Linked DNA regions of Homo sapiens. The protein of the gene in region 3 purifies or fractionates together with the protein of the main gene of each other region. This does not show direct contact. Each region holds a gene or a part of one and is shown on either strand. Other genes may lie near its edges.

Region 1 (8,402 bases), on a different chromosome or scaffold from region 3:
CAGCTTATTGAAAACTTATGCTTATGTACATAAAGCTAATGTATGGCTTTCTAAGGTAATTTTCCTGTGACTTAAAAAAAAAAAAAACCACCTTGTGACTTCATAAATGCAATTCATATTTAGGGAAGAGAGGAGTCACACTCAGTATCTTCAACATCAGTTCCTCACTTCTCAGCCCCAGTGTGTCTGAGAACACAAATAACTTTGCTTTTTCTCTTTACTGCAATTCTGCTCCTTTATCACTAGGCTAGGATGTTTTGAGTGATGGAGTTAATCATTTTTTCTGAAAGATGATTACCAGAAAGCATAAGCCTGACCCCTCACATTAAACAGGGATTACCTATACCAGCTGCCCTAGCACACAGAAACAGCTTTTCTATACCACAGCTTTTCTAGTCCACAGAACCTCTGCAAAAGGGCCACAATGGAAATCACATGTATGCAAAGTGCTTACATCACTCTTCGGTCTTCTCAATCTCTCACTAAATGACTTGTATCCACATGAAATGATCCGGCAATAACGAGGACCCATCACAGATTCTAAGAACTACTTTTTACTATACCCTATAAAACATTATTAAAGCTACACAATCAGTTACCAGAAGGAAAATTTAGCCGACCCTTCATGCTAATTAAAATCATCTTCATCAAAGAGATAACGTCATATCATTATCAAATTCATTGCTAAACCATATATTAAGATAGTTTTGTTCCAATTATTACTTTAGTAATTATACATGAACTCTTCTATATTTTTACTAGCTTATAAGCAACAATGGCTCTCTGGCTTCCCAACAAGGCTTCTCAGCACTACTGGTGCACTGTATCCATACCACCTGAAACTTTACTGCCAAAGGAAAAAAACAAGTGATTATCCGCTAAGGAATTTCCTTCCACTTGGGCTTGAAATACATTTCTGAAGTCGCTCCAATTTTTTCCAACTTTCTTTCTGGAATAACATACAGCATGCACCAAGAGTAACAAACACAGTGCTCAGGGAGCCCTTAAATTGAGAGTGGCTTTTCTGTCTTTTGATTACCTATTTATTTTCTAACAAACGGAGCCCTTTTGGAATTTTTGCTTTAGGGAATTTACATTTTAGAACAAACACTTTACTGAACTTAGATTTGTGATGTCTGCACATTTTCTTGAAAGTTCATGGGAAAATGGGGTGGAAAAAGAAGTAATGAAGGGACATCAGATAAATAAAATTTGAGCGTCGGCTGGGCACAGTGGCTCACGCCTCTAATCCCAGCAACTATAGGAGGCCTGCAAGGAGTCCTTTTGGAGGACTGCTTGAGCTCAGGAGCTTAAGACCAGCCTGGGCAACATGACCAGACCCTGACTCTACAAAAAAATTTTAAAAATAGCTGGGCGTGGTGGCATGCACCTGTAGTCCCAGCTACTTGGGAGGCTGAGATGGATCACTGGAGCCCAGGAGTTGAAGGCTGCAGTGAACTATGATCTGCACTCCAGCCTGGGTGACAGAGTGAGACTCTGACTCTAAACAAATAAATTAAATTAAATTCAAGCTTGCATTGCCCATTATAGAATGTGACTGGGGTACCTTACAAACTTTTGCCCTGTGGGGAGGAAAATGTTACATACCACTCATAGGACACTCACCTTCAGGATTTTTACAACCACTCTCTCATTGTTGGTGATATTAATGGCCTCAAATACTTCACTATATTTTCCCCGACCAAGTTTTCGAACCAGTTGGTAATCATCTTGATTACTGTAAAAGGAAGACACACACATAAATGCCAGGACTGGGGGTTAACCAAGCCTATGCCCACTGTACACGTCATTCAGCCGCTTCCACCAGGCAAACACTTGGAAGTGTCTATACATCACGTCACAACTCATTCCCTAAATGAAAGCCACGACATAATCTTGGCTCCCTTCACTCTGCAGAGCTCCTAACCTAATTGGTCTCTCCTAACTTGGGAAGATGGGGCAGGAAGGCAACGCTCTGAGCCAATCCAGAGGGGCGAGCAAAGCACCCGTCCTGAAGGCCTAGAGGGTGCCCCCTGTGCCCCGCGGCTCCCCAGCACCTGCTTCTCGTTTCACATCTTCAAGGTAGACAATGCCTGTTTTAAAAATCTGGACGTCTTTAAGAAATTTCCTCCCACCACCTCATCTCAGAAAACCTAAAAGGCAGGGCATTTTAATAGCTCCAAAGGACAGCTGTTGACTTCCCACCCCAGTGGAAACCCAGAAGTGTGAGGAAGGGCAGCTCCCTCACTTCCACCCGGCGTCGATCCCTGGACCCCACACTTCTCCCCGAGTAAAAAAGCATTCCTTGGGGGAAAGGGGTGCGCAAAGCGGGGAGAAAGGGACGAAACGGGGGTAAAGGGGAGGGAAGAGGAAGACGAGGACATGTGCGAGAGCGGGACCTCTGCCTCCCTGCGGGCCCGCGGAGGGGTCGGCGGGAGACACCACCGGGCCCGAGTGCGGTTCGCAGGGGGTGGCCGGGCGGGGGCAGGGATCAGCGGGCCCGGCGGGGGGCGGCGACGGCTTTACCCCCAGCTCGGGACGTGAGCCTCGTAGTCCCAGTACTCGCGGCTCCTCAGACTGTTCACCTCGGCGTAGACCCGGGCCCTGCTGCCCGCGGCCGGGCCGGGCATGGCGGGCGGGACCGGGGGGCGGCGCGGGGCGCAGAGGGTGGCGGCGGCGGCGCGGCGGGGGACGCGGGGCGTCGGGCGGAGGAGGCAGCGGGCCGCCGGGCGCTGGAGGAGGAGGAGGAGGAGCGCGGCGGCGGGCGGCCGCGCCAGGCCGGGCCCGCGGGGGCGGGCGGGCTGGGGGCGCGGGGGGCGCCGGCCGAGCCGGCCCGGCCCTGGAGCGGCCGGCGGGGCGGCGGGGCGGGCGGCGCTCGCGCTCCGCGGCGGTCTCCGCTCGGCTCGCGGCCCCCAGGAGGCGGCGGCGGCGGCACCGGCAGCGGCAGCCACCGGCCGGGAAAGGGGCAGCGGCGGCGGCAGCGGAGAAGAAGGAGGAGAGGAGGAGGAGGCGGAGGAAACCCGGAAAAGGGGCCGCGCTCACTGGGAGCGGCCGCCGCCCGGCCTGGGGCCGCCCAGGCTCACAGCGCCCCCTGGAGCGCGGGGGGACCCGCCGGGCGGTGCCGGCCCCGCCCCGGCCCCGCCCCGGCACGCCCCGCCGCCTACCTCGCGCCCTCCGCCACCCTCGCCCTCCCGCCGCCACAGGTCGGACTGTCCAAATCGCCTCACCCTCGGGCTGGCTTGACTTCACGCCACAGGAGCCCCCCCTTCCACTGGCCGTTGCCCTAGAGCCCTCGCCCGCGACTCCCGACCCTTTCACTGTCCTTGGAGACCCTATCCCCAGCCCTGCACTCACCCAGCTTTTACCCACCCAACACATCCCATACTGACCCTATTCTGACCCTCCTGTCACCCAAACTGTCAAGTCCCTCCCCAGGGCCTCACTCAAACCTCAGAACCTCCCCCACCTCAATACTTCTCCCTTCCCCCGAGACATACCCCTCCTTCCCCCTCTGGACCCTGCCCTGTTAGGGTAGACTCCTCAGTCCCCAAGGCTTCCTACCCCCGTCATTCAGAGTGCTCCTCACAAAACCTTTCTACACTTCCCCCAAATGCCCTTCCAGAGCCTTCCCTGAATATCCACTTTGGTCACTTGGTTAAGCTGGCATTGACCAGGTTGTGCCACTGCAAAGTTACAATTTTTCCCTTTGTGATTAATAAGTCATTTGTGGGGAGAGACTTTGAGAGTGTAAATCTCCTGTTTGTGTTTAGGAGGAGGGAGAGCAGGAGAATTGCAAATCCGACCTGAAGGGACAGGCTGGGTTGGGGATGTGCCCAGAGTAGGTGGTCAACTGAGCTGGCCTGGCTTCCAGTGCTGCCTGCAGCCTTGAACACCCTTCTCCTTTGATCTTCTAGGCCTTTCTTCTGTCTTCCTTTCCCATCCCTCATCCTTTATCGACAGCACCTCTGCACCCAGTACAGGTTGCTTTCATTCCAGTCCCTTTTCACATTCTGTTTTCTGGATGAAACCCTGGGCCTTCCTGCTTGACACAGCTAAGAGCACAGTCTGTGGAGTCAGATCTATCCAGCACTGCTACTTAGAAGCTGTGTGACCTTAGGGCAATTACTCAACCTCTCTGTGTCACAGATTCTACAGCATAAAACCAGTAATAACGCTCACTTCACAGGGCTGCAAGGAGAATTAAACAAGGTAAACCATGTGAAACACTTAGGATGGTGTTCACTATTAGGATAGCATGTGTTCAATATGATTATTTCCAGGCCTAGGGCCTTTCTCTGCTCATTCCTCCCTCCCTGAGACCACCGTGCATCCGTCTTTTGGTTCCTTCTATCCTCCAAGCTTAACTAGGAGCCACCCCCAACCCCTCCACCCCACCTTCCCAAGGGTGTCTCCTTTTTCCTATTCAAATTTCACCTTTTTCTTTATTAGTAGTATTTTTTTAGAAATAGGGTGTCTCTATATTGCCCAGGCTGGAGTGCAGTGGCTATTCACAGGCATGATCCCACTACTGATCCGAACAGGAGTTTTGACCTGCTGTTTGCCACCTGGCAACCTGGTGGTCCTCCAGCCCCAGGAGGTCATCATAGTTGATGCCAAACTTAGTGTGGACACCTGATTGGCATTGCACACTACAGCCCAGAACTCCTGGGCTCAAACGATCTTCCCACCCCAGCCTCCTGAGGAGTTGGGACTACAGGCATGCCTCCAGCTCAAGTCTCAGCTTAAAGATCACTTTCTCTAGAGTTGATACTTCTCTATCTCAGCACCCTATCCACGTCCTTCATCAAACTGCATATCTTGTCATTATTTGTTTCCTGGGTTATTGTCTGTCCCCTCCTTTGTAAAAACAGCACAAGAGCAAGGACAGAGTGTGGGCGCTCACCACTGACTCTCCCAGCATTTGCCACAGTCAGAGACCTTCAGTAAATACAGTGCTACCCCACAGATGACTTAGGAATTACCAAGGGGAAACGAGGTCACCACCTTACCCATGGTCCAAACTTCTCATCAGTAGGGAACCAACTGATCCTCTGATGTGATGCACTGAGAAGGGACACCTCCCCCATGTGGTCCTCCTGCCAAAACATTTAACCTGAATCTAATGATAAGGACACCATCAGACAAATCCAAGCTGGGCGACATTCTGCCAAACAGCTAGCCTGAGTTCTTCAAAAAGTCAATGTCACTAGGAGAAAGAAAACCAAACGAAACCCTAGATTCGTATTCTTGTTACTGAAGACTTAGAGACATAATTAGATGAAGTGTATGATTCTGAATTAGAGTCTGGATTTTTTTTTAAAGTAGAAAGGAAAGGAGGGAAAGAGAAAGAATACAGCTCATATTGGGCTGGTGCAAAAGTTATTGAAATTCAATTGAAAGTAATGGCGAAAACCGCAGTTACTTTTGCACCAACCTAATAGAAGGTTACTGCAGGGGAAATTTGAATATAGGATGTATATTACACAATGTTAATGTATATTACACAACGTTATATTGTATCAATGTTAAAGTTTGTGAGTATGATCATTGTATTTAGTTATGCAGGAGAATCCCATAATTTTAGGAGTTACATGCCAAGTGTGTAGAGATGAAGAATCAATATTTGCAACTTAGTCTCAAATTGTTCTCCAGGAAAATGTGGGTTTCTGAGAGCATAAGCATGCATAGAGTGGGGAGGAATTGGGGGAAAATTTTGATAATTAGTGAATGTAGTTGAACAGTACATGAGCTTGCAATTTTTTGGTAGAATTTGAAAATTTTCAAAATAAAAACTAGAAAAAAAAATTAATGGAAAAAGTGGACTTTGGAATTTAATTCCTGAACCTGCAAACCTTTCTAAATCTCTTTCACTCTAGAAGACATAAATATCCTCAAGCTCTTAATGCAGCTTTAGGATTTGTTTCTGACAAGTCCCTGTGAACTAGACCAGACCAGAGATTCTTAATGCCAGTCCTTGGATGAATTTCCCCAGTTCTGGGAACCCCTGACACAATATGCAGAATTTGTGGGTTTGTGTGTGTGTGTGTGTGTGTGCATGTGCGTGTGTGTGTGTGTCCATTCTTTCCTTAGCATACATCAGATTCTCAAAGGAGGCCATGACCCAAAAATGATTCCAAACCACTGGTTTAACTACTATGTCCAACCTCAGCTGGGGCCTCATTCCTCACCTCCACCCTCGCCCACCTCTGACCCCACCCACCCTCCGTGCACCTTCCTCTCATCCCTCACCACATAGCCCACACCCATCTCACGTAACCTGATCCCACACCTGCGGGATGCCTGAGGATTCACCCACACACCACTCTGGTGCAACACACTCCTGGATTTGGCTGACACCATACTAACTCAGCCCTAAAACCTGCAGTCAGTCCACCCACAGCCAAATGGAATATTTCTGTGGTTTGTTGGGAGGTTGGGTGGGCACCCCATGGAATTGGCAGAGACCCCTGCCTCTCATTTCTGCCCACCCGCCATGAAACTGGCGTGGCTTGAGTTAAGGTGGGCAATTGGAAATGGTACTCATGCAACCCTCACCGAAGGAGTCTCACTTGGATATGAAGAGGGATAGGGTGGTGACTCTGCGGGGGAGGTGCCAGGCAGGGAGGGTCCGTGAATTAGAAGTGACTTCCCCTCATTACTCTGTGTGTGCAGTTTGAGGGTGAGTATAATTCAGTGGTGCAACACAAGGGAATGAAAGAGGGTATTTTGAATCAAATAACCCAACACTTTCATACCACCTCCAATGCCCCCAAATTCTATCCAAACACCAAAAATCCAAAAAACAAAAGCACATTTTAAAATCCCACTGAAGGCCACCTATCTTCACAAGCCTACTTTCAAAACATTTGAGAAGTTTATAGGCTTTTATCCTGCATCGATACTTCTCAAGAACCTAGCCTAACAAAATAATGAAAATTATGAACAAAGAATTATTGATCATGATGGCAATTTGTGTGTTCATCACACACATAATGATTCTACATCATTGAATCCCGCCAAAACCGTACATGGCTAAAAACCATTGAATTTAGACTTTAAATGGGTGGATTTATGTTATGTGAATTTTATCTCAACATAGCTGTTTTTAGAAATCTATAAGGTTGGAGCTCTTGTAAGGGTCCCCTTTGTGCGGAGGAGGAAACCAAGACTCCAATGACAATGACCAACTGAGGCAGAGCCTGGATTTGAACTCTGATCTTTCTGACCACCACGTCACTTTCCTTAACCCCTTTCTGATTCAGTATGTCATGCAAAGGCCCACAGACGTTCCGCATGATAATCATTATCTTTAATCATGAAAATGTAAAGTGATGTAAATATCACAAGCTGGGGGACCAGCTAAATAAATTGTGATACATTCCCTACAGTGAAACTATTAGGCGTTACTAAAAAGCATGATTATGAGGAATTTTTAGCAATGGACAAATTTTAGGACACAAGATTTTTAAATAGGAGAGCTGGGTATGGTGGTTCACGCCTGTAATCCCAGCACTTTGGGAGGCCGAGGTGGAAGGATCTCTTGAGGCCAGGAGTTTGAAATCAGCCTGGGCAACACTGAGAGACCCCAACTCTACAATAAAATTTAAAAAATTAGCTGGGCATGTTGGTGCAAGCCTTAGCTACTCAGGAGGCTGAAACAGATGGATTGTTTGAGCCCAGGAGTTCGAGGCTGCAGTAAGCTATGGTCATGCCATTGCACTCCAGCCTGAATCACAGAGCAAGCTCCTATCTCCAAAAATAAATAGATAAATAAATAAATACGTGTTAAAAATTTGTGGCCAGGTGTGGTGGTTCACGCCTGTAATCCCAGCACTTTGGGAGGCCGAGATGGGTGGATCACCTGAGGCCAAAATGGTGAAACCCCATCTCTATTAAAAATACAAAAAATTAGCTGGGCATGGTGGAAGCACGCCTGTAACCCCAGCTACTTGGGAGGCTGAGGCAGAAGAATCACTTGAGCCTGGGAGGCAGAGGTTGCAGTGAGCTGAGATTGCACCATTGCACTCCAGCCTGGGCAACAAGAGCGAAACTCCGTCCCAAAAAGAAAAGTTGTACAAGTAATTGTGGTAAGCAGAATAACATCCTTCACCCACCTCAAAGATACACACTTATGGCCGGGCACAGTGGCTCATGCCTGTAATCCCAGCACTTTGGGATGCTGAGGTGGGTGGATCACCTGAAGCCAGGAGTTTGAGACCAGCCTGGACAACATAGTGAAACCCTGTCTCTACTAAAAATACAAAAATTTGCTGAGTGTGGTGGCATGCACCTGTAATCCCAGCTACTCAGGAAGCTGAGGCAGGAGAATTGTTTGAACCCGGGAGGTGGAGGTTGTAGTGAGCCGAGATTGTGCCATTGCACTCCAGCCTGGGCAACAGAAT
Region 2 (7,308 bases), on a different chromosome or scaffold from region 3:
TAGAGAGAGTATAAGTAAATACCCAGTGCAAACATCCAGTGCATTGAATCTGAGGATCCCAATATGAACAAATGCAGGCAAAATGAATAAGTGACTGCACATGTTCTCACACACCACACAGATGTGCAAAATAAGTTACTGACATAACTGGTCAATATCATGGTTTTTAAGTCAATAATATGGTTTTTAAAAAACTGGAAACTAAGTTATATCAATATATCTCAGAAATTAACTGGCATTGGTACTGACTTATGTTTAGAACAGTTTTGTTCTTAAGACTTTAGACTCTGTCAGAATATCCCTGGGTCTACAAATCTGCATTTTAACAAGCATTTCAAATTATCCTACCACAGATGGTCTATGGGCCACTCTTGGACAGTTGCTGGTCTGGGTGGTCATGTTTAATTAATTTGCACAGTACTTTGTGCGTGGAACGGGGGTTACATTTATGTTTTAAATAGAGAATGGGGTCTCGCTATGTTGCCCAGGCACTTCTTGAACTCCTGGACTCAAGCGATCCTCCTGCCTCTGCTTCCCTAAGTGCTGGGATTACAGGAATGAGCCACTGCACCCAGCCTGCACAGTACTTTTTAATATGAAAGAAATAACTGCCCCCAAAACAGGCAAACAAAAAACCAAAATGTTTAAAAGCAAAATGAAACCTGGAGTCCCACTTTGTCTAAGAAAAGGAAAATGAAAACAATTCATTTGGATAACACAGATTTCAAACTTGACTGGGGAACACTAGGTTGAGAAAGATGCTGAAAACATGATGTACAATTCACACTGCCATCCAAATGAGAAAAAAACCATTATTTGGGCACATTCTTGTGAGAAAACAAATGGCAGTAAAAATGATTCTCAATAAACTGTGCCCACTCGGCTACCAAAATCAGAAACTCTTGAAGGTCTCTCATAATTTATTGCCACAGATCACATTCTAGACACACTTTCCTGTGTAACAAATATTTTAAAAAAGAAAAGGTATGTCCTTCATTCATAGGAAGCTGAGACTATGCCATACTATTCTAGAGACACGTTTACAACAAAAATCTATTCAACAAGGCTCTCAATAACTTCAAATTCATATTTGTAGACCAACATAGTTTTTTGTTTTTTGTTTTTGCTCCATTAAATGTCATTCGTTTTCATTGGCAAGCTTGAGCTGGACTCTTCAGAAAGTTCTAAAGAAATAACTGTAAGAGGTACACATGCTACTACTCAATAAAAAGCCCTTCTATGTTCAAATCCCATAACCAATATTAATTAATTTGTGCACTGTTACCCTTCCAGCTCAAAGACGGGAAGGAAAAACAACAGTGCCTCTGTCTCTAGAATTTGATGGCACCAATTACAGCCCAATCCAATTAAGCAAGTAATGCACTCCAAAAGGGCAAGTTCACCATTATATTCAGGGCGACCGGCCTGCCGTTACTACTACGCTAGGAAACACCCCAGGCTTAAAAGCAACTCACTTCTTTGTGGAATACAGAGCAACCACATGTTCCAGACCTTCATTCTCTGCCCAGAAAGGGGGAGAGAGAGGGCTTGTCTGGGACAAATGAGTGTCCATGGTGGACTGGACCCGTTGAACCAAGTCATTATAAAGAAAATTCAGTAACCATGGACAGATGATCCTGGTACTGTATGTGGGTGTGAGTGTCTTCTAAGACATGTGATTCTTGTCTTAGGGAGTAAGAAATTTTTTTCCCTGAATTATTCGACTTTTTTTTTTTCTTTCTCTGACCCTTTCCCCTTTCTCACCCTGCAAAGGGTGGAAATCTGGATATCAGCAAACTGGCTGCAGGAAAGAAATATTATCTAAGGGGTTGAGAGAGAAAGGAAAGTGAGGAAGAAAAGACAGACAGCTATTGCATGAAGAACGTGTGTGTTCCTAATTGAAGGAGACGGAAATTTTAGGCGGCAGGGAGAGGAAGGAATGGCACTAAAGCTAGGTACCAAGGCCCACAGGAAAGGTTTTCGGAGCTTGAACTTCTGACTATGCGCTTACACCAAGGACCACAGCGCTTTGAAAGATGTGCAATGCTTTACGCAGGACAGTTGGCTGTTACTTGGAGACCCTTGGGGAAGCTGTCAAAGCCCCCAGGACAAGTCCCTATTCCCCCCCTTCTTCGCTCTGCAAGGAGAGCGGCGTCCTGCACCAAGGAAGGAAAAAAAGTTTCTCTCCGCTCCAGACCCCACTTCACACAGTGGTGTGCAAGTGTGTTCGAGCATGAAGACAACAACGGGCCGGGTCCCGCAAAGAGGCAGAACCGAGTGTACCGTCCGATCCGGGAGACCCGGCCTGAGATTCCGGCAAGGTTTTCTTCCCCGGGCCCGGACTAGGATGTTGCGCGCAGCCAGACAACTTTTCACCGCCTGTTCTCGCCTGCGGAGGCACCTCCTGCCTGCCAACCCCAGGCGCCTTCCCACCCCAGCCTCCCAAGAGCCTGAGGGTGTGTCGGCATCTCAGGACATGCTCCAGCCGAGGTCCCTGTCGCAAACCAGAGTCCTAGAAAAGGAACTGGGCTAGAGCACAGGCGACCACAGACTCGCTGGGTAATCTTGGGCCAGTCTCTGAGCCTCAGTTTCCCCACTGGTAAATGAAAGATCGCAAAATGTCAAGTCCTGTCCAACTCTCCAGCTCTACGATTCCGAGTTAGATCTGGCTTTCAGGTCCTCTCCGCCCTCACCCGACCTGTCTGCCTTCCTCCTCCAGAGTGGGCTCCTTACCCACAGAGGCGGCCCGGGTCTCCACGCAGAGCCACAGGGCGACGGCCAGCAGCACCTTGCTCTGCATCCTGCACCTCGAGCCGGGCGAAATGCCCAGAACTCGGGAGCCGGTTCTTTCTCCCAGCGCCTGTCTAGAGAAGGAGGCGCGGAGGTGGAACTCGCGGCACCCCGCAGCGCAGGACAGTTGAGCGCACAGGGCTAGGGAGCCCGGGCGCCGACCGCGGCTGCAGGGGCGTCTGCGGGTGCCGGTAGGAGAGGATATCCAGGCTGCCAGACGGACTTTCTGCGGCGCGCAAGTGATGCCCGGCGCAGGCAGAGGAAACGCAGCGACCACACATTGACCGCTCTCCCGGGGTCCCGGGACTCAGTGCAGGGTGGGAGCTGGTGCCGAAACTCTAGAGCGCGGAGGCGGGGCCATGCGGGGCGGGGCCGGAGCGGAGGAGGGGCTCTCCCGTGCGGCCAGCCCCGCCCCTCACCCGGGTACCCGGCGGCGATCTCCAGCTCCCCAAGCCCATTTACATCTCCCCATTTCCCCACACAACTGGACTGCGCTGGGCCCCAAGTCGCCCAGGAGAGAACATCCCAGAGCAACAACTTTGTTTCTGGTGTAAATAAAAAGTACTCGGTAACGGGCGCTGAGCAACTCCAAGATTTAATCGCTTGCCGGTCCCCGAAATTTGGGGAGCATCACCAGGAGCGCTGCGAAGAGCAGCGCTCCCTCACCAGGCGCGTCAAAGTGCAGGACCCTCTTCGCCATCGCGCGCGTCTGAAGTGGCCGAGAATCTGCAGCAGTTTGGAGCCACAAGGGAGAAGCGGATACTCAGCCAAGTATGCCGGGTCGCAAGCTGGCAGCGACTCCTGCCAGTAGTTTTGGTTTTTGTATAAGGGTATTTTGTTTGGCCAGTATAATTGTAGTTTAAAAAGCTGAATCTGGTTGCTCTTAATCAGAAAACGCACTTGCCCAGTTCGCCAACATTCCCGCTATTTCCCAAAATATTTGGCGGCTCCAAGTTTGAAGTGACCTGCCTAGCCCCAAGAAGGCTTTTGTCCATCGTGCTCCCCAACGAAGAGCCCTAGTGAAAGTTTGGCCATGCCCCTTTTCAGAGCAGAGCTTCCAGCCAAGATATCCTTAGTCCCAGGGGAAGGAGGCCAGCTGCCAGCGTGCTTCAGTGGAGGAGCAATGAAGCAAAAGCACCTAGGACACTCTGTGACCAAATTGCACAACTGTCTCCACGTGTGTGGACTTCTTGTGGCAGCTGTTTGGAGGGGAACTCCAATTCCTTCCTGACCACATTCGTTCCTTCTGGTTTTCTGTCCATATCTCCCCACACCTGGGGAGTGACATCAAATGTCCCCTAACTTCATTAAATATGAATCTTCCAGATGCCTATGTCTTTTACCTCCCAGAGGTGCTTTTTAATGACAACCTAAAGGACCATTCTTCACCAAGATAAACACACAGAATTATTATATCTACACCTAATTCAAACTAGATTGATTGTATACAATTAATGTAACCTGTTACTTATCTTCATCTGTTTTTAAATATTTACTGTATTCACGCTTTTACTTTTCCAAGTTGACAGGTGAAATATTTTAATGCTGAAATATAATGAATGTATATGGCAAAAAAAAATTTTGGAAAAACACAAAAAGGCTTAGAGTGAAAAGACTTTTCTTTTGGCAGAGGCATTTTTATGTTTCCTTTTTTTTCCAAGCAGATTCTTAAACACAAGTATGTAGACATGTCACCCTTCTCTTCCCACAATTGCTTGGTATAAATGCTATTTGAGCCTTGGCTTTTTTCCCTTTAAATTTGATTTATTTATTTGAGACAAGGTCTCACTATGTTGCCCAGGCTGGTCTCCAATGCCTGGACTCAGTCCATCCTCCTGCCTCAGTCTCCCAAAGTGCTGGGATTACAAGCACGAGCCACCCTGCCCAGCCTTCACTTTATAATATACACTGGAGATTCGTTCTACATCAACCTTTAAAGCTCCATCTTTTATTTATTTATTTATTTATTTATTTATTTATTTATTTTTATATAGAGGCAGGGTCTCACTATGTTGCCTAAGCTGGCTGCGAACAAAGCTCCATCCTTCCATCTTTTCAATGTTGGCATAGTGCTCTACTATATAGATGTACTCATATTTATCTGGGAGGTATTTATTTGGGGAGGGGAGAGAATCTTTAAAGAAACTCCTCTCTTCCTGCTAGTAAACTCAGCAAATAAAATAGGATGGACTCTGGCAAAGTTGGATAAAGGGGTGGGAGATGGAACCTGGTTTGGAGAGGGCAGTTTTTCTCCATCCCCATCACCAAACAATTCCCTATCAGCCTTATTTACAGTTCATGACACTTCCTCTTCCATGTCTCATTTAAGAAGATAGTGTCTCCTCTGAATGCAAACCAGAACCTGCAGGCCCGTGGTAATAGCCCCCTTTAGAAGTCTTGGAGGAAATGATGCGTCTTTGATGGCCGCAAGACCAGAATTTGGCAGAGTCTCAATGAAATCAGTCTACCACATTCCCTCCCACACAGCACTTAGAAGTGCCTTAGGTTCACAAAAAAAATGGCAAAGTCTGTTAAAAAAAAAAAAGATAGAAAAGAAAGAAAGAAAGGCTGTTCCATGTGCAGCACCCTCTCGTTATCTGGCATTGCAAAGGAGTGACTTTTGTGAGTTAACCCAACAGTAAGGCACCTAGCAAAGTGCCCCAAATGTGTTGAGTGTTCCATAGATGCTATTCAGATGCCACAGCAGAGTAGTAGCTAAGTGCACAGACTCTGGATTTTATTCCCAGATCTACCGCTTATGATCTGTGTGATCTTTACCAACTTACAAGTAACTTATCTATGAAACACAAAAAAAATTATAATAGTACCTTCTTCATAGGGTTCTTACAAGAATTAAAGGAGTTACTGCATGTAAGGCACTTGGAGTAGGCCCCAACACAGCTAGTAAAGATCTTGGACATAGAAAGCACCAGATACACATTAAGAAACATTCTGCAAAGGTTGCTTATACTACAATGCATGGGCTTCTTCATGCTGCTGAGATCTAAACTGCTAAGCAGGCTCATTCATTCAACAGTTTTTGAGCACCTACTATATGCTAGGCATTGAACCAGGAACTGGGGTTACGATGGTGAAAATAATGTCAAGATGAGCTTAAATGAGGAATCATTGTAATAGCCTCACCCAAGACAAATTTAATTTAATCTTTAAGCACTTCTTGTCTCCAGCTACTTTTCTGGGCTTGTACATACAGAATATACATTGTTCATACTCAAAGCACACTGCATAAATTACTCTCCATGATCTCCAAATTTGGTTACATTACCAACAGTATTTTGGACTCCATGTCTTAACAAGTTATATGAAGATTTGTCAAAGGTTAATAACTGTGGAAGTTCAATTGCTTCAAAGAGAATAAAATACCCAGGAATCCAACTTACAGGGGATGTGAAGGACCTCTTCAAGAAGAACTACAAACCATTGCTCAATGAAATAAAAGAGGACACAAACAAATGGAAGAACATTCCATGTTCATGGATAGGAAGAATCAATATCGTGAAAATGGCCATACTGCCCAAGGTAATTTGTAGATTCAATACCATCCCCATCAAGCTACCAATGACTTTCTTCACAGAATTGGAAAAAACTACTTTAAAGTTCATATGGAACCAAAAAAGAGCCTGAATTGCCAAGACAAATCTAAGCCAAAAGAACAAAGCTGGAGGCATCATGCTACCTGACTTCAAACTATACTACAAGGCTACAGTAACCAAAACAGCATGGTACTGGTACCAAAACAGAGATATAGACCAATGGAACAGAACAGAACCCTCAGAAATAATACCACACATCTACAACCATCTGATCTTCAACAAACCTGACAGAAACAAGCAATGGGGAAAGGATTCCCTATTTAATAAATGGTGCTGGGAAAACTGGCTAGCCATATGTAGAAAGCTGAAACTGGATCCCTTCCTTACACCTTATACAAAAATTAATTCAAGATGGATTAAAGACTTAAATGTCAGACCTAAAACCATAAAAACCCTAGAAGAAAACCTAGGCAATACCATTCAGGACATAGGCATGGGCAAGGACTTCATGACTAAAACACCAAAAGCAATGGCAACAAAAGCCAAAATTGACAAATGGGATCTCATTAAACTAAAGAGCTTCTGCACAGCAAAAGAAACTACCATCAGAGTGAACAGACAACCTACAGAATGGGAGAAAATTTTTGCAATCTACTCATCTGACAAAGGGCTAATATCCAGAATCTGCAAAGAACTCAAACAAATTTACAAGAAAAAAACAAACAATCGCATCAAAAAGTGGGCAAAGGACATGAACAGACACTTCTCAAAAGAAGACATTTATGCAGCCAACAGACACATGAGAAAATGCTCATCATCACTGGTCATCAGAGAAATGCAAATCAAAACCACAATGAGATAGCATCTCACACCAGTTAGAATGGCAATCATTAAAAAGTCAGGAAACAACAGGTGCTAGAGAGCATGTGGAGAAATAGGAACACTTTCACACTGTTGGTGGGAC
Region 3 (7,464 bases):
TAGTAACAACTTTGGCCAGCAGTTCTTCTGAGGAGGGTTCATTCTTCCACCAATAGTTTTTTAATTGAATTGAGCTTGGTGGTGGTGCCTCTCACATTGAGAAGTCACCAGAGATCAAAACCAGAAATAAAAAGATGAAGAAAAATACGGCAAAGGAGAATGTTTCTGAATTTGCTTGCACATAAAATCTGCATAATAAAGCAGGCTCCAGATTGAAAAGTTTGAAACAAAGACAAGATATTTCCATCAGTAGCCACTGAAAAAAATTAGAAAATGCATCAGTAGGATTCTGCTTTTTGATTAGAAATAGTACCTATTTTTTCTATATCCACTCCAAAGACTTTCACTGTCTATGTTCAAGGATAGTACCCACAGGCTTCTTTTTTTTGAGACGGAGTTTTGCTCCTGTTGCCCAGGCTGGAGTGCAATGGTGCGGATCTTGGCTCACTGCAACCTCCGCTTCCCAGGTTCAAGCCATTCTCTTGCCTCAGCCTCCCGAGTAGCTGGGACTACAGGCGTGCACCACCTTGCCTGGCTAATTTTTGTATTTTTAGTAGAGACGGGGTTTCACCATGTTGGCCAGGCTGGTTTCAGTCGAACTCCTGACTTCAAGTGATGCCTGCCTCTGGCTCCCAATGTTTGCGAGTGAGCCACCGTGCCTGGCCTGTACATACAGACTTCTAAGACTCTAGTTGAGTTTTACCTGATTTTGAAATGTATAAAAATGAAGTCACAGAAGTTAGGACAGCAGTTGCCCTTGAGGGCAAAGGTTGGTGACTAAAACTGACATCAGAGGGCTTCTAGGAAGCTGGAAATGTTGGCCTCTAGATTGGTTTTGTGGATGTATCCACCTTGCAAAATTTTATCAAATCTTATACTTGGGTTGTGTATTTTTCTAAATATATATTATACTTTACTAAAGGTATATATTCTTCTCTATTTCATATGGAAAATAGAGATGTAGTTTGGCTTAAAAAACTCAGTTTTCCATAAAACAAGGATTTTGTTTTAGTCTAAGTGATGCTCTAAAATACAAGACTAGAGTGAGGTACTTCCCTTGGATACAAAAAGCCAAAAACTCAGTGATTAAGATAAATAGTATTTTAATGTAACATTTTTTAAAAATCCAAATTAATCCTAAAAAATCCATGCTAGTAATAATAAAGAAAGATTAAAACAGAAAATATTACTCATATTACTCAGGAAAACAGAAAATGGAACTTACACTCCAAAAAATGCCAATAAGTGTAAATGTGCAGGAATAAATGTAAATGTGCGGGAATAATCAGATTTGAGAAACCAAGGGCAGATTATTTTTCATTCCATAAGTTTATATTCTCTGAAAATAAAAGACATTAGCACTGTTTCAAAGTTTTTAATAATTTAGGTAATTTAAAAACTAGCATTAAAGGAACAATATCTGAATTATCCCAACAAAATTCTGAAACGAATATCATCTCTATTTGCTTATAATTTCACTATGATTAAACTTCTTACGAAGTTACAAGTATGCGATCTTCCTTTGAACGCACTGAGTTAGGAAAAACATGCCTATTGTTGGTTACACAGAGGAGAGATTACAAATCTAAATCATAGTTGAAAAAAGCAACTGTGCCATGATATGAAACAGCACTGTCAAATCAGACACTGAAGTCGGTAAGTAAGATTTTCTTCTTGTCAGTAGGAAAAGCACTACTGGGTTTGAGTCCCCCAATGCTACCACCTTTTTAGACTTTTGTTAGAGCTTTGCATTCATTTCCTTAATGTTTTTAACCCAATGTCTGTGAAATTTTTATTGCTCCCCGGATGGTGACATCTGATCTGAATGTAACCATACACCTCTTTGCTCAGCAGTATTTGTCACAAACCATTATAAATTATCATGCTGATTGTGTGCATTGCTGGGAAACTGGAGAAGTTTCATAAATTCTAACTACCATATCAATGACATTCTTGTTTATTATACAGATATAAACTTTTATGAGATTCAAGATGTCTGCCTTACCACTGAAGAAAACTTTAGTGGAGTAAGATCTAACTAGTTCGATGTACATACTGAAAACCATTTTCAATGTGCAATGAACATGTGTTTCCGAAAACTCTCCACTGGTCACTTCTTTATTTCTTTTCTATTTTTAATTATGCTTTGACACTTCACAAGTGTGCAGGATTTTGCTGGCAAAAAAGAAATCAACATTCCTTCCTCTCCCTCAACACCTTCTTCGGTCAGAGCATTCTCTAGAATCCTCTCAATCTAATAATAAAATCATGCATATATATAGCTGGGAAAAAATCCTAGTTCTGTGTTAGCCCTGCAGACAGACGCTCCACTGGTCTGTTGATCGACTGATTTACACCACATCTTGTTCAATAAAAGAATTAAGGGGTTATAGTATTATGGTTCTGATGCTTATTTGTAATGAAACCTCATTCAGTGCTGGCATAGACACAGAATGTTGCATGTTAAAACTATGGAGGCACAACTTACACATTTAATTTTCCTAACGAAGTATCCACCTTTGACAGCCACTGCAAAAACTTCACCATTTTGCAAAGTATGATCCAGAATTAACTCATGAACTGGGTCAGTCTTGGTGCTATTCACATGAGAAGTTGTGACTGTATACTGTATTGTTAAGATTATGAAATGATGTTTTTTACCTAATTATACATAAAACAATAAAAATCTAAATAAAAAATTTTTTTTTTTCTACCAGGACTATGTAGCTGGTCTAATGACTTAACCATCCCTATACTCTACAAAAGAAAACTGTTTACTTGGGTTTCAAAGATGTTTCACAATAAGCAAATGTGCTAAGGCATCGATTTCTTAAGCTTTCTCAGGGTGGAAGTTGACTATACAAATACTGACCATTTCAAGAGAAAATGCAGGGTGTATCATGTGCAAATCATCTCATTACTGGGTCAATAGATTTAGTTTTGACGTATGTTTAGTTTCATATTTCCAAATGTTCTAAAAATCACCAACTTGTTAAAGATATCATAATAATGATAACTTATTTTGAGGGTCACTTTTACCTTTTAAAAAGGCTTTCCTATCTACTACTTGATCCTACTAGTAACCCTATGACATCAGCATAGCAAATGTTTTTTACTGCCAACAGACATATAATGAAGCTGGAACAAGGAAAAATATTAAATGTCTTAAATAAGATGAATAGTTTGTTCTTAACAAGAGTGATAACTAAAAGCTCACCAGCTTTCAGAATGTGGTTTTAACTGTGCCTAGTTTTGTGCCACCTCCAATCCATTTTTGTAAATAGCCTGATATAAAGTACAAAAAAACCCTAATAACAAAACTATGTTTGTAGGAATCTAATCTAAACTTTGAAGTCTATGAATTTGTTCTTCAAATAATTTCTGGTGTTCCCAGGTTTTTTTTTTCCCCCTAGGGCATTCCAATCCCCTGTAAAATTTAAATCTGTGGATTCTTCTCAAAGCCTTCACAAAAGGAGGTAAGTATTTTGCCACATTTGTAGAATCTCAAATGCACCCTTCAACACTGAGCACTAGTCATTCATATGAATCAGCTTAGAAAGATAGTGAAAGGAATGCCTTATGCTGGTCTTCCTATATCTTTCTGGAGTTTCTCATTGATAAAAAGCTCACAATGCAACACTTCAAAACACAGCAGGAAGATATTTTCCATGGATCTAATCTCCATTGACTTCATCAGGCTAAATATAACAGCCTTTCAGCTTTGGCCAGGAGATGACACCTTCACAGAGAGCAAAGCCTCAGTTGGGACAATTAAGAAATCACCTTACTCTGTAGCATTAAAAAAACAAACAAAGTCACCATTATTAAGATTGTTATGTAACATCTTCTTGGCCATGTCAGTTTCTCAAATACTTTGCTGATATCACTAAAACTGTCATTTTCTGTGAATTACAATCATCTTTTAATGTACTTTTTAAAAAGAAAACTAACCAAAAAGGTGCTCCTTTAATCCCATTATACCCCACCTGACACCATGATATGACAAATCATTATTTAAGGTTTACTGTGAGCTAGACACCATTGTAATACTGTGAGATGCTGTTGTAATAATTAGTATACGCTGATTATTTGGAAACTGATCATCAGCCTATGGATTTATGCTAATTCTCTAGGCACCAAAATGTTGAATGAACCAGATGACCTTATTTCCCTGACCATGAAAAGCTAGTTTACTACACCAACTCAACAGGTTGTTGAGCGCTTTCTACAGGTAGGAAGATTTTTATATTACTCTGTTCTTTCCCAGAAGAAATGTATGTGCAAATAGAATTGTAAGCCCTTTACATATATTAAGTGATTCAACTGGCTTCCCTTCTTAAATTTCTACTCCAGTTGTGTGCTGGATCTGGCGCCCACCAGCTCATAAGAACCAACTGTGCACATTTCTTTGCTAGTCTGGGCACAGTGACATCACATGGTTAGTTTGAAATTGGCTATGATGAGAGTATTTACACCACAGAAATTGGCATGTGCTACATACAAATGAGGACTTGACTCGTCTTCTCCAAAGAGCCAGCTGTTAAACATTTACCACCACATCACTGCCAATAACTAGTGATTATTCTGAATTCTTTAAGTATTATATTACACGTATTGATGGTCATGATTTCCAGATTAGAAATTAGTAAACGTCAGTTTATTGAATTCTAACAGCACTTTATTTTTTGGAATAATGTTATTACTTGAGTATGTTTTACCAGAGTTTCTCCTATAGCAGTTTAAACATGGTCAAAAAGCAAATACTAATAACTACTGCTACTACTAATGAAGTAAATCAAATATAAAAGAAAACAAGTCTCCAGATTGTCTAGGTGATTGACACTGTAAAAACCACCATAAAGAATATTAGCAAAAATAAATAAATCAATACAATGAACTCTTTGTTTCCAAGCAGTCACTGGAACACTATTAATGGTAACTTCCATACACAATTAAAAAGTCAATATAATGCCCTGAGGCACTTCTGAATCACAAAGCAAAGATAAATTGGAATTGGTGTAATTTTGTTGCACTGTAGTATACACTGATTATTTGGAAACTGGTCATCAGCCTGTGGATTTATGCTAATTCTCTAGATACTAAAATGTTGAATGAACCAAATGACCTCATCTCTCTGACCATGAAAAGCTAGTTTACTAAACCAACTCAACAGGTTGTCGAGCACTTCCTACAGGTAGGAAGATTTTGATATTACTCTGTTCTTTCCCAAAAGAAATGTGTGTTCAAATAGACTGTCTTTAACAATGAATATACTTGCAAAATAATATTTAGGTCCAGCGGTAGCAGTAGTCTGTAGATATCATATACGGTTACACCAAACTGACCCACTTTAAAACTTGTGAAAACCTCTCAGTCCCTGAGAAACACTTTAGAATTGAGATTTAAATCGATTATTTTTCTTTGATAAAACTATTTATATATGTACAAACTTAAAAGATGGATATTCAGGTTCAAGTCTCTGGAGACTACACCACTTTCAGTGGGTCAGAATGGGATAATGTGGACAAGACAGAGACAGGGGGTCTGTTGGGTGTTAAGAGAGACGAGCAAACATGTATCTGAGTGGACTGCTACGTGCAAGGTAAAAACATACTTTCGATACTGTGGAAAGCAATATCCACATACCAGTTCTTTCACATAAAGTGAGGAAATATAATTTCGACTGTCTCTATAGTGAGAATGTCTTCATAATAACGAAATTGGGCATAAGTTGATGTTTAGAAACTTAACAATAGAAAGAGATAGCAAGACTAAGCAGGTGGATGAAACACTGATGTGTATTTGAGTTCCCATTGTATTCATCGTGTCTTAACAATTATTTTCTAGCATTTTCCATAAAAGTATTTTAATCAGTAATCCACCATTTACAAAACCCCTCATCTGGCTTATCCTGTAGGCCTTATTTTATTCAATTTGCTTTTTCCATGTCAAACTTACTTAGTAAGATGAATGCAGTTCTTAAATCATAAGATGTGCCACAGTTCAATATATCTCAAATAGTGAGATCTCCAATCACACTATCTGTGGATGCGATGTATATTAGTGATCCACTGTATTTCGTAAAAATACAAGTGAGATTTTTGAGTTTCTAGTTCTTCCCCTCTCCAGGAAAAAAAAAAAAAGAAAGAAAAAAGAAACATACATACTGTATACATTTCTTAACAAGAGTTCCCAAACCAAAAGTGCTAACAGGAAGGAGTATAAGAGCTTACACATTTAACTATAATCTTCCTGGTTTGGGGAACTCAGAAATCACTTAACGTACTTCAATTTCCATACCATTGACATATAATCTGGCTGAGATTGGAATCCCTCCTGGATCCATTTATAATCTACATTGTACACACCGACTTCCCCCCCGTAGACAGGCGTGACCACTAGATGGTGCTGTGGTGCCCTGTTCAAAAACATTCCCACTTACTTGCAGTCTCTGTCCTCCAAATCGAAGTGAGGGTTGAAGTTGATCATAATTCTCTGGTATGGGTCCGGAGCCTGAATCAGCCATTCGCATTTTTCACTTGGGTGATAAGAATGAGGATAACCAGGAGATGTAAGGTACCCGGGGCTTTCAATTTTTATAGTATCGCCACATTTATCTGCAATGAAAGTAAGATTTTAGCAGATCTTTCCTGACAACCTGTTAGGTAATCTAGCTTTATATGTAAATTACTGGTTATTAAACATTCCTTAACTTTTTAAGGGGAACTCTAAAAGGTCCCCGTAAGTCCTTCGTGTGGCTCTGAGTGCAACACTCCAGGAAAAAACACTCTTTGATCTCAGGAAGGTTGACTCAGGCAGAAAGCCAACTGAGATCTGAGAGGACTCTTCCCCCCAGCCCCGAAGTTTCTTCCTAAGGAAAAGGTCTTCTAGCATTAAAAACATTAAATCCCCTCAATTGATGTTAACATGGTCCCCTGGGAGCTTCTGCTAGACTTAATTATCCCCCAAGAAGTGTAATCACATTAAGTAGCAAGTTCTAAGTGGAAAGTGACTGAAAGATGCTGTTCGACCCCTTGTGTTGTTTTTTGATGATAAGCCTGGTCTATGTCATTGATCAGTGGGGATTGTCTTTGATTGGCTTAAAGCCAAACCTTTTGTTGTTGTTGTTTTATCTGCCCATAAATCTAAGTGATTTTGAGTTATCTCTGCTCTTGAGATCCAAATCAACAGAGAACAAAGTATATTTGGTGAAGCAGAAATAATTCTGCTTTACTTCTCCAAGTAAAGTTGTTCAAGCTTGGAGATCGGATCAAAGCAACGGGGCAGAAGGAAAAGTAAATAGCCACATGGCATTAATTCTAATTACCTAAATGTTGGGTGAAAAATAACCCACCACACAGGTCTGGGTATCACATATGGTAACCCACATTCTCACATTCTGGGAAAGGTGAGCTAAGTAGTTTTGAGCCTTCATTTCAAAAATGCTCAAGTGAAGCCAAATAA
Region 4 (7,464 bases), on a different chromosome or scaffold from region 3:
ACTCTTCAGTATTGGAATTTGCTAGAATTTCTTAAGTATCATAATCACCATCACTATTAATATCTACCAAGTGCTTATTATGTTACAAGCACTTAGTAAGGAATTTTACTGTAAATATCTTATGGTATTAGACTTAATCCTCAAAATATCCCTACATTTTGTTTCAGGTTGTATTATTATTTGCATAGGTTGTATTCCTATATTTTGTAATAGGTTTTATTATTGTCCCCATTTTACAGATGAGGAAACTGAGGTTTAGAGCTATGTAACTTGACTAAGGCCGAATAAGGGACAAAGCTAGCATTCAAACTTGGCTCTGTCAGATTCCAAAGCCTGTGTTCTTTTTATGATTGTATTCGAATATGACTAAACCATAATTGAATCTCATGGGCAAAACCCAAAAATTGGACCAATAAAGTGACAGATGAAATCCAACAAGGGTGATTTCTTCTTATACACAGTTAATCCTCCATCTAACAATAATTAATTTCTTCATCAGTTCAAATGCAGATAAGTCAGTACCACGATATTCTTTTATAATTAAAAAGCATGAGCTTACACTCAAATCTACTAATATTTTAAGAACATTTTGTGGTAGCATAGACTAAGAACACCAAAGTTTGAACTCCTAAAACTGACAAGAAAAAACTGACTTTGCTTTGAACTGAATCCAAATAACACAGAAATGGATCGTTTATACTCACATAACTTAGTATTTGTGCATGCAACGTAGATAGCATAATTCTACATTGAGAAATGAAGTTCAGATTCGAAAAGCAGACATTATCAAATTCATACTCGAAATGAGTATGTCCAATACTCGTAACTAAAAGCATCCAAAAAACTGTGAAGTTACAGAAATTTTCCATTTTCTTTTCTTATTTTTTTTTAGTCTGCTAGACAAATTCTAAAAGAGCTAAAAATATGGAACACTTCATGAATTTGTGTGTCATCCTTGTGAAAGAGCCATGCTTATCTTCTCTTTATCGTTCCAATTTTAGTATATGTGCTGCTGAAGCAAGCACTTATTTTATTTTTGAGACAGGGTCTTGCTCTGTCACTCAGGCTGAAGTGCAATGGCATGATCAAAGCTCACTGCAGCCTTGACCCAAGCGAGCCTCCCACCTGAGTCTCTGAAGTAGCTGGGACTATAGGAATATGCCGCTACATCCAGCTAACTTTTTATTTTTTGTACAGACAGGGTCTCACTATGTTGCCCAGGCTGGTCTTGAACTCCTGGGCTCAAATGATCCTTTCATCTTGGCCTCTCAAAGTGCTAGGATTATAGATGTGAGCCACAACGCCCAGCTGAGATTTTTCCATTTAAAATATACCAACAGATTTTCACTTTTTTGCCTGGTTCTTAAAACTATGAATGGCCAGTACAGCAAAAAGTTTTATTCGATTTTTAGACTGTCCTATAAAGTCAGTTTGAGTTGTTCCATCTCCCTCTACCAGTTTACTGAGCATCTCTTGAAAAGTGTATGGAAGATATTAAAAGTAGGGTCCCTAGAAATAAACCAGATACTTGGTTTTCATAAATACATAGGAATTTAATAGCTTAGAAACTGTTAAATTTTCACCTGTTCCTCTCTAAAAACTAAAATCACATTCCACAGGTCTGCTAGAAGAAAATGATTAGAGTTTGGAAAGTATCTGGAAAACACTATGCAATTGCCTAGACTAAGTTTTCCTCCTTGATTTATTATTTCATTATCTTCAAAGCAAACTATTGCTTTGTAATAGTTGTCATGAGCCAAAACTTACTTGTTAAAAATATTTCTTGGAGGAAGCAGCAGAGGAATAACAGTATTACTCAAGCATTCACAAAGGGGGCAAAGGAATTCTCCGTTTTCTACATCATAGCTCGTATGTAAGCGTAATCTCTGTTGCCTTCGCTGTTCTTTAGCTTGAACGGAATCAAAATACCTTTACAATTAGAGAACATGAGGTATCAAAACAATGGTAATTTACATAAATGACAGCCATAAGCTTCAACATTTAAAATAATTTGTTTCCACAAATAGTTCAAAAATGAAAATCTTAAACTAAATTATTTTTAACATGATTTTTGAGTGATTTTAAAAATCCAAATGGATTAAAAGTTCTAAAAGAGTAAAATAAAAAAAAAGACTGCCATGTAAAAAAGCATTCACAAAGCAGCAACAAAAATTTCTTGGTGTCATTGTTCTCTTGCCACTTCCCCAAGGCTGGTGGCTATTTGTTTTTTTTTTGTTGTTGTTGTTGTTTTTGAGATGGAGTCTTGCTCTGTCGCCCAGGCTGGAGTGCAGTTGCACAATCTTGGTTCACTGCAACCTCCACCTCCCACATTCAAGCAATTCTCCTGTCTCAGCCTCCCAAGTAGCTGGGACTACAATGTGGTGGCTAGTTGTTAGGGGTAGTTCATGATAACTGGGTGAGCATAGTTCTAGAATAATAGTATTATTGATTTGTTGGTTTTGTAGAAGCATAGGAAACACCAAGGTAGAACAAATTCAGGACATCTCATCACAGGGAGCCATTACAATTTTGGGAAGTAACAAAGCAAGTACTAACATCTATGGAATCAAAAGTTGTCCACCCTGGACCCAAAGAAAGACAACATTACCCTTCTAGAGTTTATCCTACTGTAAAAACCCTTTTCTTCATCCACAGACTGATACAGATCCACTTCCTTCTTTGGAAGATATAGAAGAGACTTGGATATAAAGCTAAATTAAAAAACATATCTGACATACACTTTACATCTATGACAAGGCAAATAACTTTTGTTATTTATTAGGCAATGATACGGATTTTTTCAACATTTTTAGTTCTTTTCCTTTTTTCTAGAATGAAATTTCCTCTATTTAAAAAATATTGAGCCCTTAGATAAACTTCTCTTGACAAATATTAAGAATATACATTACCTTTGCCAACAATGGGCATGCATAATGTGCCCACAGCTACTAGTGTGTGTTCCACAAGACAGATCAGGGTGCATGAATAATGGATCATATTTTTCTGCATTACAAAACAAAACAAAACAAAACAAAAGTGAAGCATTTAATTTTCCTATAACAAATGTGTAACTTTAAATTGTAAAATCCTTGATAAAGACTTGAAATTTGAAATGAAATGCTAGTTTATTCCTCTGAGATACCAATTTATGCAACACCTTGGATTATTTAGAAAGTAGGACTCTCTAATTTTCACCACCCACAGCAAATTAATTAAACATTCTCAAATTGTTAAACTGAAATTAGAACTATGAATTTAAATATATCCAATCTTTTGAACATTTCACACTTTCAGGGTGCTGAGATATTCCAATTCCTCCCATTGTACCCTGAGCTCCAGGTAAAAGAGCTACTCTCTTCATGGGGCTGCCTTATGTGCGTTCAGGGCAGCTGGGTTAAAATGATCGCTAATAAAAAATGTTTTGGCAGTAACGGGGCGCCCCCTAGAGGACAGACTGCCTAACAACACTCATACAGCGAATAATCACATCAGAGCCAAAGTGACAACAAAAAATCTAAGCACAGACCAGATCAGATGGGGGGAAAAAAGGTAATTCAGAGTCTTCTGTCCTGGTGCTAATTTTTATATTCAAAGGGGATGAAAAATCATGAAAAACAAGATGGATGTCTGGCTTCTTTTGGAATTTTTGAATTCTTTATATAAATTAGTATAATCTTCGAAATTTCCTAACACTCTAGAAAGAACTACTTTTAATTTGCTTTAATAGTTTTAATTTGCTTTAACACTAGAACAGTGCAAATGTCAAAGCATTAAGAAAATCCACTTATAGCCAGCTAATGCTTTTTCTTCAGAAGTAATAAGTTAAATAAAATTAGCAACTTTGTCTTTGGCCTGGAATGAAATTTATAAAGCACCTAGTTTAAATATCTTTTTTTTTTTTAAGACAGTCTCGCTTTGTCGCCCAGATTGGAGTGCAGTGGCGCGATCTCGACTCACTGCAAGCTCTGCTTCCTGGGTTCACGCCATTCTCCTGCCTCAGCCTCCCGAGTAGCAGGTAACTGCCACCACGCCTGGCTAATTTTTTTTTGTATTTTTTAGTAGAGATGGGGTTTCACTGTGTTAGCCAGGATGGTCTTGATCTCCTGACCTTGTGATCTGCCTGCCTTGGCCTCCCAGAGTGCTGGGATTACAGACATGAGCCACTGCGCCTGGCCTTTTTTTTTTTTTTTAAAAACAAACAAACAAACAAACAAAAAAACCACACAGGGTCTCGCTCCGTTGCCCAGGCTGGAGGGCAGTGGTGCAATCTCGGCTCACTGCAACCTCTGCCTCCCAGGTTCAAGCAATTCTCATGCCTCAGCCTCTTGAGTAGCTGGGACTACAGGCGCGTGCCACCAAATTTGGCTAGTTTTTTTTTTGTACTATTAGTAGAGATGGGGTTTCGCCATGTTGGCCAGGCTGGTCTTGAACTCCTGACCTCAGGTGATCCACCTGCCTCGGCCTCCCAAAGTGCTGGGATTACAGGCATGAGCCACCATACCCAGCCTAAATGACCATTTTTAAAGATGAAGCAGACCAACCTTTCATAAGTAGGATGCAAAGACTTTCTTTACAGAGAGAAGGCAACTCTAAAAGTGGGCTCTCAAACCTCCTTTCACGCTGCAGTGTGAAAGGCACTGGTTAAAGCAGTGCTCTGGGAATTCCCAAGACACAGTTCCTACTCTCAAGAAGTTTACTGGGTATCGCTGAAGCACACGCACACAGAGCACAACCTACAAGCAGAGAAATAAATGTGTCTGTGGTGGACAAAATCATGTGCGGACTGGATCTCCCTGCTTTACTCCCTCAGTTGCTGAAAGAGGGCCCTCAACTGTCCTGCACGGTAATCTGTATCCCAAGAATCTGCTTTCTGGGGAACCCGATCTGTGGTGGTATTACTATTCTAAAACAATTTGGCTCAAGGATTGCCTCTTACATAGGTAACTCTCCATCACTGTTCTCAGGAGATTCCACTCAGGCTCTATCAATAAGACAAAACAATTATTATTTCAGTGTGTCAACAAATGACCAGGACTTTGCAAGTGTACTGAAGGATGGAAAAGACTGTGAAATGCCAAAGTATGTAATGTTACATCACAAAGAAAAGCTTTTCTTTGAATCCCTGCTATTTATCAGCTATGTGATTCAGGTGCAACTTTCTGGAGTGGTTCCACATCTGCCAAGTGGGGAATTCCTGCCTAAGTTACCTGCCAAAGATACCATCCAAGTCCATGGAGTTATTTTTAGGTTTAAAAAATCTCAACGTATCACCAACCACATTAACTGGCAGTTGTTATTAAAAGGGAAGATGAGGATCTAGCTATGACTTACCTGGATCTTGAATAAATTTACTTCTGTTTTTTGATAATACAGTTGATCTCTGAACAAATGCTGCCAAGACCATTGCCCTGCTTTCCACTTTAACTTCTTGCTCCTCTTGACACAATATACATGTAACGAATTGTCTTTGTTCAGGAACCTGAGTTTGTGCGGGGCCCAGTGCTGTAAGTGTCATATCTGAAGCCACAGGGCTGCAATACAAAGGTTATGAATATAATTAATGATCCCAAAACTTTCTATATAATCACAAAATAGCAGACTACAGGTATGTGTGTGTGTGTGTAGTGTGTGTGTGTGTGTGTGTGTGTGTGTGTGTGTGTGTGTGTATATATATTTATTTATTTTTTGAGACAGAGTCTTGCTCTGTCACCCAGGCTGGGGTGAGTGGCACAATCTTGGCTCACTGCAACCTCCGCCTCGCAGGTTCAAGCAATTCTCCTGACTCAGCCTCCTGAGTAGCTGGGATTATAGGCATGCACCACCACACCCGGCTAATTTTTTTTTTTTGTATTTTTAGTAGAGATGGGGTTTCACCATGTTGGTCAGGCTGGTCTCGAACTCCTCACCTTGTGATCCGCCCGCCTTGGCCTCCCGAAGTGCTGGGATTACAGGCGTGAGCCACCACGCACAGCCAGGAATGTATATATTTAACACATGGTTTTGATAACTTGGATTGTCAAGTCTTTGGTATGTATCAAAACCATCTCCTTTAATCCTCACAGTAATCTAATCTTCAACACAGATGTCATACGCTCTAGGTAACTGAGTGTAGTGTACTCATTCTTTCATGAATGTCCAAGGTCTTCTGCAGAAAATACCCTACCAGGTGTACACAGGACTTACCATACCTACATTCAGAGACTTCTAAGATTAAATCTTCTAAATGGAGGTCACAAAATTTACCTATGAATTCTACTAAATTACTTTAGGATTAAAAGTATACTTACAAGGAGAAAACGCAACACTGCCCCTAGTTGGGAAAAACTCGTCAAGACATTAATTTTTTTTTTTTTTTTTTTTACCTATGATCAAGAACAGCAGAGGTTGAGGCATCCAGTTCTAATGTCTGCTGAAAGAGTTCTTTGTTTTCATCAATAAAATGCCGCTGCATTTCAGACATCTGAGCCATGATCTTTTCTCTGCGCAGTCTGGCAATCTCTGCTTTTCTCTTCCTCTCAGCTTTGTCTTTGTCCCTTGAACTCTGAAATTATGCTCCATTCAATTAGACAATTAGATGCTAAAACGCACATTTTTTTCCAAAGCAGAAATATCTTCACTGTAAATACCAATTAAAAAACTATTCTATAATCTCACTTATTTAAATAAGAGAAAAGACTCTTAAACTGACTTGTTTTAAAGAAAAAAAGCAGACAAAAAATTGCTACAACAAATAGAGATAAATAGTGGCATATTTCTTGGAATTTAAATGTTGTGAGTAACTGGCAACTTAATGTAGATAAATTTATTTTGTTCATACTGAACTTGCTGTAATTTTTTAGTATTATCACACTTTTTACTGTTTATACCTCTTCCATTATGGTTCCTTCTGTCTCTGCCACGGGACTGGTAGGTGAACTCTCCCTCATCTTTTTAACAGCATTAAAAGTCTACAAAAAAAAAAGTATCAGTATCCTGTATGAAATATGATCACAATGTACACATAACAAATATTCAATATTTCTCACAAAAAGCAGAGGAATGTGGAAATTTTACCTTCAATATCCACCGAATCATGTCTTTGTGGACTTCTAGGTAGGGAGCATTTTGTAGTGTTTCCAGCATAGCTAGTATGCTAGGAGAATTTTTTGGCGCTTCACCAGGTTCTACGGCAGAAAAATAAAAGGCACAATAACAATAGCTAATACTTCATAGTACTTATTCCTACGCACAGGAACATAAATGCAGTTGCTTATAACACCTATTGCCCATAATTTGATTATGGCTCTACCAAAATAGAGATTTTCAATACTTCTTGAGAATGTGACATATTTGTCTTTTACAAACAAGTTGCCAACAACTAGAATTCTTTAAGGATTCAAAAGTGACTTTTTATAGCAAATGATTATTTTAACATCCCTTTAGCAAAATTACATACAAATTCAGCTAAAAATAAGTGGTGTCTCA

Evidence for each region.
Region 1: the proteins of NRP1 (region 3) and CSNK2A2 purify together in Homo sapiens (affinity purification with mass spectrometry; 6 studies listed by BioGRID and IntAct, with this or other methods). This does not show direct contact.
Region 2: the proteins of NRP1 (region 3) and KDR purify together in Homo sapiens (affinity purification with western blotting; 7 studies listed by BioGRID and IntAct, with this or other methods). This does not show direct contact.
Region 4: the proteins of NRP1 (region 3) and UBR2 purify together in Homo sapiens (affinity purification with mass spectrometry; 4 studies listed by BioGRID and IntAct, with this or other methods). This does not show direct contact.

Annotation. Positions count from the first base shown.
Region 1 is NC_000016.10:58,195,107-58,203,508, forward strand, and holds the start of CSNK2A2 (casein kinase II subunit alpha'), read right to left. Parts: upstream 3,001-8,402; 5' UTR 2,631-3,000; coding exon 2,527-2,630; intron 1,803-2,526; exon of another isoform or gene 1,739-1,802; coding exon 1,627-1,738; intron 1-1,626.
Region 2 is NC_000004.12:55,122,494-55,129,801, forward strand, and holds the start of KDR (vascular endothelial growth factor receptor 2 precursor), read right to left. Parts: upstream 3,103-7,308; 5' UTR 2,801-3,102; coding exon 2,734-2,800; intron 1-2,733. UniProt on the Homo sapiens protein: Tyrosine-protein kinase that acts as a cell-surface receptor for VEGFA, VEGFC and VEGFD. Plays an essential role in the regulation of angiogenesis, vascular development, vascular permeability, and embryonic hematopoiesis.
Region 3 is NC_000010.11:33,324,266-33,331,729, forward strand, and holds part of NRP1 (neuropilin-1 isoform a precursor), read right to left. Parts: intron 6,618-7,464; coding exon 6,443-6,617; intron 1-6,442. UniProt on the Homo sapiens protein: Cell-surface receptor involved in the development of the cardiovascular system, in angiogenesis, in the formation of certain neuronal circuits and in organogenesis outside the nervous system. Mediates the chemorepulsant activity of semaphorins.
Region 4 is NC_000006.12:42,657,723-42,665,186, reverse strand, and holds part of UBR2 (E3 ubiquitin-protein ligase UBR2), read right to left. Parts: intron 7,164-7,464; coding exon 7,054-7,163; intron 6,948-7,053; coding exon 6,867-6,947; intron 6,542-6,866; coding exon 6,363-6,541; intron 5,532-6,362; coding exon 5,332-5,531; intron 3,004-5,331; coding exon 2,910-3,003; intron 1,930-2,909; coding exon 1,768-1,929; intron 1-1,767. UniProt on the Homo sapiens protein: E3 ubiquitin-protein ligase which is a component of the N-end rule pathway.